Regions from separate parts of the Homo sapiens genome. Here all the other regions are reported to be linked to region 3. Evidence: microRNA targets listed by miRTarBase, many of them from high-throughput screens and not tested one by one. Region 3 holds a microRNA gene; each other region holds the end of a gene's coding sequence.
Evidence for each region. Region 3 holds the annotated microRNA hsa-miR-6883-5p (AGGGAGGGUGUGGUAUGGAUGU, at 1,965-1,986, opposite strand). A microRNA usually pairs through its seed, bases 2 to 8, with sites in the 3' UTR of a target mRNA and lowers its output. Matches are read on the target gene's strand: a 7mer-m8 pairs with bases 2 to 8, a 7mer-A1 pairs with bases 2 to 7 and ends in A, and an 8mer does both.

Region 1: the mRNA of CCDC120 is a reported target of hsa-miR-6883-5p. Seed matches in the 3' UTR shown: 7mer-m8 at 2,833-2,839 and 7mer-A1 at 2,699-2,705.
Region 2: the mRNA of PPFIA3 is a reported target of hsa-miR-6883-5p. Seed matches in the 3' UTR shown: 7mer-m8 at 1,224-1,230, 7mer-m8 at 1,256-1,262 and 7mer-m8 at 1,423-1,429.

What each region holds. Positions count from the first base shown.
Region 1 is chrX:49,068,261-49,072,323 of GRCh38, reverse strand. It overlaps CCDC120 (coiled-coil domain containing 120), which reads right to left. Exons shown (of 11, transcript NM_001163321.4): 11 at 2,470-3,780. The coding sequence ends at 3,666. PRAF2 (PRA1 domain family member 2) reads left to right here. Exons shown (of 3, transcript NM_007213.3): 3 at 316-1,163. The coding sequence ends at 455. Among named protein-coding and RNA genes, the nearest start is that of PRAF2, 3.7 kb to the left of the region's middle.
Region 2 is chr19:49,149,336-49,153,398 of GRCh38, forward strand. PPFIA3 (PPFI scaffold protein A3) reads left to right here. Exons shown (of 30, transcript NM_003660.4): 28 at 212-383; 29 at 745-816; 30 at 901-1,691. The coding sequence ends at 803. It overlaps HRC (histidine rich calcium binding protein), which reads right to left. Exons shown (of 6, transcript NM_002152.3): 2 at 3,926-3,996; 3 at 2,975-3,043; 4 at 2,669-2,723; 5 at 2,182-2,218; 6 at 1,863-1,997. The coding sequence ends at 1,961. Among named protein-coding and RNA genes, the nearest start is that of HRC, 4.0 kb to the right of the region's middle. RefSeq lists enhancers at 188-407, 1,997-2,606.
Region 3 is chr17:8,143,081-8,147,144 of GRCh38, forward strand. It overlaps MIR6883 (microRNA 6883), which reads right to left and starts at 1,991; the gene lies at 1,914-1,991. PER1 (period circadian regulator 1) reads right to left here. Exons shown (of 23, transcript NM_002616.3): 14 at 3,817-3,922; 15 at 3,514-3,685; 16 at 3,292-3,422; 17 at 2,878-3,057; 18 at 1,671-1,913; 19 at 186-796.

The DNA of each region.
Region 1 (4,063 bases), not on the chromosome of region 3:
CCTCGCCACGCCCCCGCTAAAAGCGCCTTCCCGGGCTTCGTTCCCCCTTCTGGGAACACCCCTTTTATTATCGCCTTTCCTATCTCACTCTTGGTGTTAAGTGCCTTCCACTGGCCACGTCCCCGTTACCGGGCGTCTTCCCTGGCCATGCCCACGTTGCCAAGCCAATTACTCGGCCACGCTTTCAGTATCTGAGGCGTCCTGGCTGCTCACCACTCCATTGGCCTGCCTGCGCGCCAATTCCCTTCGGTGGGCCCCGGTTGGCTGCAGGCTGAGGTCTATTCCACTGACCACCCCTCTCGGTGCCGCCCACAGTGATCCTGGTGCACGCCTCGTTGCGCCTGCGCAACCTTAAGAACAAGATTGAGAACAAGATCGAGAGCATTGGTCTCAAGCGGACGCCAATGGGCCTGCTACTAGAGGCACTGGGACAAGAGCAGGAGGCTGGATCCTAGGCCCCTGGGATCTGTACCCAGGACCTGGAGAATACCACCCCACCCCCAGCCCATAATTGGGACCCAGAGCCCTTTCCCAGCACTTAAAACAGGAGCCTAGAGCCCCCTGCCCAAACAAAACAGGACATCTGTGACCGCCCTACCCCCACGCCAGCCCCAAACTAAGATATCCCTCACACCCAGCCCCCATTACCTAGGGACAAGAGTCTTCCCCAGCCTTGAACCCAGGACCAAGAGCCACCTACATCCAGCCCCAAAACTGGCTTCAGGCCAGAGCATCCATGGCCAATTTCAAATTGTGAACCCAGAGACACTCCCATCCACCCTTCTCCATGCTCATCCCCAAACTGGGGCCTGGGGCAAGGCACTCTCAAATCTTGAACCCTGGACCAAAGCTTTTCCAGACCCCACCCTACCTTCCAACCCAGGTCAAGACATTGCCAAATCTTGAACTCAGAACCCAAGTGTTCCATGCCCCTGTGTGGATGGAGTCGGGTATCCTGACTGTTGGACCCCTGGTCCAGGTGATCCCGACCCTCACCAGTCCCATTTGCCTCCCTCCAGCTCTGCTTAGGCATTTTGCCCCTCACCCCAATGTTCCACACCATCGACAACCAAGGGGTGAGGTGGGGACAGGCCTCAGCAGGGAATGGGGCGTATATGTTAGTGTTGCTGCAACAATAAAGCCTGTTGCATCTCTCATGCCAATTTGAGCCTCCTGGGTAAAGTCCTTGTACATTTCAAAGGACAGAAGTGGCCTACTTTTCAATTCTGCTAGACTCTTCCTGAATATGTGGGCTGAAGAGGTGATCTCTGAGGCCCTTCCTTGAACTTATGACCTCTGGATCAGCATTAAAGCACAGGGAAGGACAGGTGCAGTGGCTCACGCCTGTAATTCCAACACTTTGGGAGGCTGAGACTAGAGGATCACTTGAGGCTAGGAGTTTGAGACCAACCTGGGCAATATAGCAAGACTCTTATTGCTACAAAAAAATTAAAATTTAGCTGGGCATGGTGGTGTGCTTCTGTAGTCCCAGCTACTTGGGAGGCTGTGGCAGGATGGCCAGAGCCTAAGAGGTAGAGGCTGCAGTGAGCTGTGATTGTGCCACTGCACTCCAACCTGGGCAACAGTGAGAACCTGTCTCAAAAAGCTGGGCATGGTAGCTCACGCCTGCAATCCCAGCACTTTGGGAGGCTGAGGCAGGAGGACTGCTCAAGCCTAGGAGTCCGAGACTAACCTGGGCAACATAATGAGACCCCCATCTCTACTTTTTTTTTTTTTTTTGAGACAGTCTTGCTCTGTCGCCCTGGCTGGAGTGCAGTGGCATGATCTCGGCTCACTGCAATCTCTGCCTCCCGGGTTCAAGCGATTCTCCTGCCTCAACCTCCCGAGTAGCTGGGATTACAGGCACGTGCCACTACGCCCGGCTAATTTTTTTTGTATTTTTAGTAGAGACGGGGCTTTACTGTTAGCCAGGATGGTCTTGATCTCCTGACCTCGTGAGCTGCCCACCTTGGCCTCCCAAAGTGCTAGGATTACAGGCGTGAGCCACTGCGTACCCGGCCTACAATTTTTTTTTCTTTTTTAATTAGCGGGTATGGTGGTGCACAACTGTAGTTTCAGCTATTCAGGCGGCTGAGGTGGGAAGATTGTGAGTCCAGGAGGTCAAGGCTGCAGTGAGCCGTTATCGCGCCACTACATTTCAGCCTGGGCAACAGAGTGAGACATTGTCTCAAAAAAATAAAAATTTTTAAAAAATGTATAGGGAGGTTAAGGACAGAGTCTTTGTTATCACCATTTATATTACCAAGAGTTATTGTTTGAGGTTGGCTAGAAATTTGAGTGCAGACAGGCAAAGAAGTTGCCCCACATCACAAAGCAAGTAAAGTCAAAACAGATGACACTATCACAGGCTATTCCCAAGGTATGTTTTTTCCTGCAAAAATATATTATCTGGTCTTGACTAGAGGTGTGGGTCCTCAAGGTGAGGCAGACAGAGCAGCAACACATGGGTTCAGTTTACACATTTATTATACAAATCCCCTTCCAGTGTGGGTAATGTCTTGGGTCCAGATCCACTGGTATAAAAAGAAAAGCTTAACGCCAGGAAAAGGGGGTAGGGGAACCCCCAGCTCCGAAAATCACAGACAGGTATCATAGAAAACACAACTTGTGTGGGTTTGCTTAAAAAGTGGTGGATTGGGGCTGGGTGCAGTGGCTCACGGCTGTAATCCCAGCACTTTGGGAGGCCAAGGCGGGCAGATCACGAGGTCAAGAGTTCAAGACCAGCCTGGCCAATATGGTGAAACCTTGTCTCTACTAAGAATACAAAAATTAGCCGGGCATGGTGGCGTGTGCCTGTAATCCCAGCTACTCGGGAGGGTGAGGCAGGAGAACCCAGGAGGCAGAGGTTGCAGTGAGCTGAGATTGCGCCGCTGCACTCCAGCCTGGTGACAGAGCAAGACTCCGTCTCGAGAAAAAAAAAAGGGTGGAAGGAAAGCCAAGGAAGGTGTGAGTGGTGAGTGGCCCGTGGCCCGTAGGCAGACCTCACCTGAGGATTTCACTGGCATCTACCGGGTGCCCCTCCTGTGGGGCCTCCTGACTGGGGGTGGTCAGGGCAGAGGCCATGGGCACAGAGGGGGTTGGGCTCTTTCAGGCATCCCACCCAGACTGCAGTCCTTCCAAGTGTGGGCAGAGAGCCCACTGCCCCAACTGCCCTGGCGATGCGTGGCAGGGATTTCTGTTCACACCGGAGTCTCCTGGCTGCCCTAAATGGCCCTGAGACCCGATATGGTCCATTTTATGGAGGGGGTTCCTGAATGGAACCTGGTTGGGCATGGGAACAGGAATGAACCCAACCAGATGAGATCACAGTTTCCCTTTTGTAAAACGCCTAGTGTTGGAGGAAGACAGTGAATACCTAAGTCACAACTGTAAACATAAATGGAGGAAGGGGCTTGGGGTCCCCATGACATCATCCCCCCTCTTTTAAGCTAGCTGAGGGCCCCCAGTCCCCAGCACAGTGTGAGAGAAGAAGCAGGGTGTCAGACACCTTCCTGGGCCTACGGGGAGCCAGGGGCCTTGGAAGATTAGGTTGGCGCACTCTGCTCAGGACTGAGAGCAACCACACCCCAGGGCCCAGCGAGGTCAGCTGTGTGCTCCCCAGATTGGAATCGTGCCCAGGCCAACAAGGGACATATCAGAAGGGGTCAGACCAGTGTCCCCGGGGTCTGGGTGTCAGAACTGGAGGACTGCTCCCCCTCTAGCGTCAGGTCACTTAAACGAGCGCTCAGCTCCGGGGGATACAGGAAGTCCGCGTAGTATCTTTAGAAGGGGTAGCAGGAATCCGGAGGACAGGGCGGGGAAGACAAGAAGAAGAAAAGACAGACAAGACACAGAAAAAGAAAGGAAAAGAGGCTCGTTAAAGAGGTGGAGGCAGGCACAGGACAGCACTTTCAGGCTCTGGGGCATGGAGAAAAAAGGAAGAAAACAGCAAGGGGCATGAGATGTCCCTTCCTCCCGGCACCCTGGCTTCAAGGCTCATCTTCAGCCTATAACTTGATAAAGAATTGCTGCTACCAGTGCCCAAGATCCCCTCCACCAGGAC
Region 2 (4,063 bases), not on the chromosome of region 3:
CAACAGCTCAGAGGGCTCTGCTCCCAGCGGCTCCTCGAGAGGCTGAGCTGAGGGGGCGGGGCCTGACTATTAATGGTCACGGTTGGAGGCGGGGCCAGGAGAGGGGCGGGGTTAAAGGAGAGGTGAGACCCGGAGAGGGGTGGAGTCAAAGGAAGGGGCGGAGTCAGACAAGGCAGGAGTCCCTCACCGGCTGTCCGGCTCCTATACCTAGGACAGCGCCAAGTCTTTCAGCCGCTCCCCATCCTGGCGGAAGATGTTCCGGGAGAAGGACCTCCGAGGCGTAACTCCCGACTCAGCTGAGATGTTGCCCCCCAACTTTCGTTCGGCTGCAGCGGGAGCCCTGGGCTCTCCGGGGCTCCCTCTCCGCAAGCTGCAGCCAGAAGGTGGGGGGCTCCCAAATGCGACAGCCCTTCCTCGCTTCCCTAGGGTGGGGCATGGACCACCTCAGTAGTCCGGGTTCTGGAATGGCCTAGTCCTTTCTCGCCCACCCCTGAGGAATGGACTGCTCCAACGTTCCGGACTCCCCCGTCAGGATGAAATGGATAAATCCCACTCCCCCTTCCCAGGGCGGGAGTGAACTCGCCCAATGCGAGTTTGAGTCCTTGGCTGCGGGGAAGGGAGGGAAACCCATGTGGAGCCCGGCGATCGTTGTGACATCGGGAAGGGAAGTCCAAAGGGAGGAATCCTGGAGAGGAACAGGGAGGAGGGTGCTCCAGGCTGAACCGCTGCTCGCTCTCCCTCCAGGCCAGACTTCTGGGAGTTCCCGGGCAGACGGCGTTTCGGTCCGGACCTATTCCTGCTAGTGCAGGCCTCCAGGTGAGGACCGTGCTGGGCGACCTTGGGGGTGCGGGGCGGCACGGTGGATCTTCACTGCTCCACGCGCTGCCCGGCGTCATGCAGGTGACCTCACTCGGACGGAAGAATCTTCCCGAGGCTGGGCTGTTCCCTCTCCTGCCCGGACTGTGGCCTCGCCGGGGAGAGCGGGCGGGGGAGCTCGCGCCGAGGACTGGACCATCTGTACAGACCAGCGGGAGTGCGCGCGCCCGCCTCGCACAGGGCCGGGGCCTGGACCAAACCACATGAACTGGACTGAGAGGGGGAAGAAGCGGGGAGGAAGAAATCCCGCCCCAAACGTCCGCTTTCCTTTTCTCTACTTTGTAATTTATTGATCAGTTTCTGTTGGGAGACGGGTGTCCTTTACCCGCGGGAAGGGGGCGGGGCTTCCCTCCCGGGCCGCATGCGGGGAGAGGCTGCTCCCTCCCCTTTTTCCTGCCCAGTCGCGGGGCCCAAGTCTTCCTTCTTCGTCCGAAAGGAGGGGAGGGGGGACTCGCTGCTACAAGCCTCGCCCCCTGTGCCACTCAGCTCCGCCCCGCCGCGTCCGGTCGCCGGTCCCCCGGGTCATCTGCGGGCGGGTTCCCCTCTCCCTCCCCCGTGTCTCGTGTCCCCGGGGCCTCACCGCCCCCCGTGCTGTGGCCGTGTCCGTGCCCCGGGGGTAGGGGGCGCAGAATGGCGCTTCCCCTTCTCCTCTGGCTCCGGGGTTTGCATGGGAGAATCCTCTTTCCACGATGCCGCTGGGCGACGTGGCGTGGGGGCAGGGGGACGGTGGGGGAGCCCTCGCCCCCGACTCTCGGTCGGCCTCCCCGCCCCAGGCGTCACTCAGTGATCACGGGTAAAGAGAACTGTTTCAAAAAGCTTCCTTGTTGACTGATTTTTTTTTTGCGGGGGGGGGGGGGGCTGTTCAACCAACCACCTCGAGCCAGGAGTCCAGGCCCCTCATCCCTCAAGTCTAGGTCCAGGTCTCTAGACCCTACCCGCATTCCCCGATGCCCTGAGATTCCCAGACCCCACGTCTGACAATGAGGTTTCGGGGAGCACGTTTATTCGGAGAAATAAATATAGCTCGTGGAAAGGGGTTGGAAGGCAGGGGGAGGTACACCTGCGTCGCAGTCGAGCGACTGGGTCAGGGTTCCGGCGTTTCCAGCATGTCTGCCAGGGCCCTGGAGACGAGAACGCCAGAAGTTAGACAGCTGGTGTTCAAAGCCCACCCCAGGACGCTTAGAGATCATTAACCTGCCCATTTCATGGACGGGGAAATGGAGTCCCAGAGTCATCTGATAACTCATAGCGAGACAAGCACTTCTCTAAACGGGGCTTTTACACGCTCCCCTTTTACACACTTACTGATAAAGGGACGAGGAGAAATAGTCAACGTAGCTTCCTGTGGGACAGCAGAGAAAAGAGGCTTGAGGGGTACTGCACGAGCAAAATTAGGCAGCCACTCAGTATAGCGTGCGAGATTAGTGCTAGCTCCACCTCCTTTTCCCTAATTCCTTCTTCCAACTGAATCCCTTCTACCGGACCCCTTTTTCGTTCTGGGTGATTCCGTTCTCCAGTAGCCCCGCCCCTTCGATTCCTACTTGAGTTGGCCTCGCCCATTAGGCTCTAAGCCCGCATCTCAACCCTCCACTCATTTCTGTCCCTTGGCTCCAGCAACTCCACCTGGTGTTCCTCGAGCCAGGCCCCGGCCCACGTGCTCAGAGCCTTGGCCACGCCTCCCCTCTTAGCCCCGCCCCACCAGCCTACCGGGCCAGGCTCCGCCCCCACCAGGATTCACCACGCTGGGCCCGGCACCTTCCTCAGGTTTTTCCAGGGCCCCGCCCATGCTCACCTGGAGCGCAGACCGTTTCGCAGACCAGCGGGCAGAGATAGCAGAACTGACAGTGCTGGAGGCGGGGACGGGGAGAGAGAGTGAGCGTGGGGCGTGGCCGGGGGCGGAGTTAGGATGGGGCCGGGACCAGACCCGGACCAGAGGCTAGGTCTAGGTTAAGGTTGGAGTCAGGATCGCTTGTGGAGTCAAGGTTGCATCAGGGGTAAGGGGTTGGGTCAGAGGCCAGGATTTAGGGCTGGGGGTCCTCAGAGGGTCCCGGTGCATCCTGAGGCCCAGTGGAGCCTTGAGTGTGAGGTGAGGTCTCACCTGGCACTGGTCGCAGTGCTCACCCATGTTCTCCTCATCACAGTGACAGCTCTCACATTCAGTGCATCGCTGGGGACCGGGGGAGCCTGGTTAGATGGAAACTCTAACGCCACTTGGGAGGTACCCGCCCCTGGCCCACCCCTGCACCCTGGACGCTTCCCCAGACTCTACCCTCTTTATCTCTAACACTGAGCTCTGTATCTGCCCCCCAAACCAGCCTCCCCTCCCCTCCCCTGCCCCTGGTTTCCTTCCTTTCCCTTTTTTTCCTTTTTTTTCTTGAGGCGGAGTCTCTCTCTGTCGCCCAGGCTGGAGTGCAGTGGCGCAACCTCAGCTCACTGCAACCTCCGTCTCCCGGGTTCAAGCGATTCTCCTGCCTCGGCCTCCTGAGTAGCTGGGATTACAGGTGCGTGCCACCACGCCCGGCTAATTTTTTTGTATTTTTTAGTAGAAATGGGGTTTCACCGTGTTAGCCAGGATGGTCTCGATCTCCTGACCTCGTGTTCCGCCCACCCTGGCCTCTTAAAGTGCTGAGATTACAGGCGTGAGCCACCACACCCGGCCCTGCCCCTGGTTTTCTATCTCAGGGCGACCCCATGTCTCCCTGTCAGGGTGGGCTCAGGTGCTCTCTCCACCCGCTCTCTGCCTATTCTCCCCCTAGCCTATCAGCCCCTGTGCCATCCCTCCTTCCCCCGACTCTCTTTGCCACAGACCCCTGTCTCTGTCCCCACACCCCAAGATGCAGCTTGGGTCTTGTCCTCTCCTTCCTGGACCACTGCCCCAGCCTCCCAGCCTTCAGTCTGTCCTCACCTCACATGCCTGCAGAAGGATCTCTTTTCTTTCAGAACTGACCCTGGCCTGCCCTTGCTCTGAGCCCTCCCACAGCACCACCCCAGGGCCCCTGGGACAGATTCTGGGGACACCTTGGTGGGTGGATCTGGGCTGGGGACATACATTGCAGAAGGAGCAGTAGCCACACAGGGACCCTGGCTGGTAGTTCCCATACTCCTGAGCATCCTGTGGACCTGCGGGGACAGGAGGGCAGCAGTGACCCAGGCTGACTCGGTTCCTTCCCACCCACACCAGCCCAGG
Region 3 (4,064 bases):
AGACAGGACTGTCCCTTCAAAGAGGAGGTAGCCAATTTCTGCCTCATTCAGAAATTCAGCTGGGGACTCCCTCCACCTCCTGGAGGCTGAGACGCCAGCCTGGCAGAGACAGCAGGCAGCACAGGGTGGCAGAGGGGCGGGGCTGGGGTGGGGGCTGGCAGGCAGACGCAGGGGTCAGTGCTCACCAGTCTGGCCTCTGGCTCAGCAGCCTCCGCACTGGGAGGTGGGGGCCCGGCACTGCTCCCAGGGCCTCCTGCAACAGCAGCCCCCTCAGCACGGGGGAGCTCCTCCAGCTGCAGCAGATTGAGCTGGAGTGGAGAGCTGCATCTCGAGTTGAACAGTGGAGAGTCCGGGCGGTGAGGAGGACTCGGGGCGAGGGCGGGCAAGGATGGAGAAGGGGAGTGCGAGGCAGGAGTGGGAGGCCCTTCAGCAGGGGTCTGGAGTGCCCCATAAGGATAGCTGGATGGGGTTGGGAACAGATAGTTAGGGAGCACCAAGGCCACCATTGGGGTCACCAAAGGGGCGGGGAAAGCAGCTGGGGGCACAGATGTGGGAGCAGGGGGAAGAGGCTGGGGGCCTCCTCGAGGAGAGAACACTGGGAGAGGGTAGGGCTGGACAACCGCTGGGAAGGGGGTAGTGGCTGGTGGGGTGGGCCAGGGGGTGGAGGGTGGCACGGGTGAGGGGTGTGAGACATAGCAGGGCGCTTCAGCCCGAGGGTTCTGGTGGTGGCGTGAGCGCTTGGCTTTGGATCGGCAGTGGTGTCGGCGGCTTGGGGGTGCGGGGCCGTGGTGGCAGCCTGTGGGGAGAGACTAGGGTTAGCAAGGACCTCAACCTGGGGTTAGTACCCCTGCTACCCACACTGCCCTGACACGCTGACCAGGGAGAGGACAGGCCAAGGTCCCAGAGAGAGCTTCTCAACCCACACAGAACGGGGGACTCAGGAGGTGGGGCACCTTCAGGGAAGAATCACAGGAGCCAGGGACAAGGGGATTTATTGAGAAAGGAACAAGGCCAGGGAGAGGTTACACGAGGGGTCGAGCTGGGGGTGTGCGGAAGATGGAGGCATGCTGGCAGATGGAGGAAGCAGGGTGAGTCCATGGACACATGGACAGATGGCTCTGGTCCGCCAAACTCCTGTGGGCACTGCCAGCCTAGGCATTCCTCCTGCCCATCGAGGCCGTATTCTGCCTAGCTTGCAATGGAGTGAAGAGTGGGGCTGGAAAGCCCAGTCCTGAGTCCTGCGTCTGCCTGCAGGGGATCTCCCTCAGGCACCTGGAGGGGCTGCCTTCCACCTGCCCTTGAAGCCCAGACCCCACCCAGAGTTGGCCCAGAATCTATGCATGTCTCTTCATCAGTGACAACTGACTCCTAAGTGGGCATACTTCCTGCCCCTGCCCCCAGGCTAGGCCTGAAGTCGCTTACCTGGAGACAGCACCTCTGCCTGCCCATCCCAGTGCCATCCCCCCAGGCTGCCCTCCTCTGGCTGCAGCCCGGAACCCCATCCTAGTGGGGAGAAGCTAGCGAGGGGCCTGTCCCTAGGCAGGGCCTAGTGGTGGAAGCAACACCAGCCTGGGTCCCTGGAGCAGAAACACCTCCCTTAAGACCCACCCCCCAACAATCCAGTCCTAGACTGGGCAGAGGGCAGGCTCCAGGAGGCCCCAGGTGGCTACCTCGCTCGCCAAGGGCTGAGGGAGCTGTGGAAGAGCTGTCGAGTCCACGCAGCCTGCCCAGGTCTCGGAAGCGGCTGAGGAAGGCTTGCTCTTCCTTCTGTGTGTGCAGGGACAGCACGGCCTTGGTCAGCCCCACTGGACGGTAGGCGTCTGGGGCTGGGTCAGGGGCTACTGTGGGGCTGGGGGCTGGGCTGGGGGCTGGGCCTGGGGCTAGGCCAGGCAGGTCCTCCATCATGATGATGTCTGAGGAGAGTGAGATAGGGAAAGGTCATCAGAACCACTTCAGGGGTCAACACATCCATACCACACCCTCCCTGTCTGATAGCCTAGCCAACCCCTGGCAGCTCTGCCCCACAGCCAAGCCTGGTCTCCATGTACGTTTCTTGGTCACCTCTCTGCCAACGGCTGGCCCTGGGTCCTCCTCTCCATGCAAAGCTGGCCCAGAAGAAGAGACGATACTCAGGCCCCTCCAGTGGCCACTCCCTGCCAGGAACTCTACTGGGATGACCCCGTCACAACTCTCATTGGAAGAGAAGCCCACCCCTTGGCCTTCCCTCACACATTTTCTTGTTTCTTTTTTTTTTTTTTTTTGACATGGAGTCTCACTCTTTCTCCCAAGCTGGAGTGCAGTGGTGCGATCTCAGCTCACTGCAACCACCACCCCCTGGGTTCAAGCGATTCTCCTGTCCCAGCCTCCCGAGTAGCTGGGACTACAGGCGCGCGCCACCACGCCCGGCTAATTTTTGCATTTTTAGTAGATACAGGGTTTCACCATGTTGCCCAGGCTGATCTCGAGCTCCTGATCTCAGGTGATCCTCCTACCTCAGCCTCCCAAAATGCTGGGATTACAGGCCTGAGCCACCATGCCCAGCCCCTCATGATTTTCAAGGTCAATATCCAAAGACCCTTCAGGGATGTTCAATTTTCCTTGCCTTCAGACCCTGTGTGGTCAGCACCTCAGGGCAAACCCTCTATCCCAGACTCTGTGTTTCAACTGACAGTAACAATACGAGAAGCAGAACAGGGGAAGGGCAAAGCCGAGAAGCCTGGCAGGGAGGGGAGAGCAAGAAGCAGTAGCCCCAAGCCCCAGGTCAAGGGAGGCCTCCTTCTCTCCATCAGGCCCTAGAGGGGAGGGGAAAGGCAGGAGGGAGCTCTAGCTGGGAGACCGGTGGAGCCCAAGCACTGCCCCCCAATTCCACACCCATACCCGACTCCGGGGGCTTCTTGTCTCCCACATGGACGATGGTGGAGCTGAAGCTACACTGACTGGTGACGGACACCACACTCTCCGCCTTATTGGCCAGGGCGAGCGGGCTCAGGGTGCCTCCCACCACTGGCTCCTTCCGTGGGGTGGCCCCCTCCCCAGACAGCGCTGCTGACGGCGGATCTGTGCAGAGAGATGGTGCCAGTTACCATCCCCACCCCCACTGGGAAGTCAGGAGAGAGGATCCCAGGGAAAAGGGGAAGGGGATGGTGGTAGGGAACAGAGGGAACAGTCTGGAGACCAGGAGGCTGGGGAGGAGAGCAGGGCAGAGCAAGAGGGCCCAGAAGCAGAAGGGAAAAGACACAGGGCCACCAGGCCAGGACGGGGCAGTGGGAGCAGGGTGCATTGGATCTTTACCTTTCTTGGTCCCCACAGAGACTGGACCTGTCCTCTGCCTGTCGTCGTCAGAGGCTGAGGAGGTGGTATAGGAGGAGGAGGAGGCACATTTACGCTTAGTGGTGCTGGGGAGGTTGCAGCTCTCCAGGTACCTGGGGATGGACACAGCACAGGGCATCAGAGCAGGGCTTGGGGTGGGCAGGGTTAGAGCCCGAGGTGGAGAAGATGCCTGGCAGGCCTTACCTGAGGATGCTGTCCAGGCAGTTGATCTGCTGGTAGGAGCAGCTGGAGGCTTCTTTCCTCTCGGCCTCCTCAGGGACCAAGGCTAGTGGGGCCTGGACGGGAGCAGAACCCGCCTCCAGCTCTGGGTCTGGGGATTGGCAGGGAAGGGCCTTGGCCTTGAACGTGCCTGTAGCTGGGGCAAAGAGAGAAAGAGGAAAATAGCCTTCTCAAGCTCACATGGAAAAAAACAGCAAATGGGTTGGGGGTGAAGGTCAGGGGACCCCCCAGGTCTGTCTCTTCACCCACACATCATCATCAACTCACCAGGGAGGCGGGGCCGGGACTGAGGCCGGGCCCGAGACTCAATAAAAAGCTGCTGGCCCTGGTGCTTCACCAGATGCACATCCTTACAGATCTGCTGGAAAGTCACCTGTGGGACACAGCACCACAGTGAGCAGAACCAGGGGGTGTCGCCAGTGTCAGGGGCCAAGGGCACAATAAAACAAGAAGGTACCAGTGGGGAGGCACAGACGCCTTGATGGGAGCAGGACAAGAAGGAAAAGGCAGGAAGG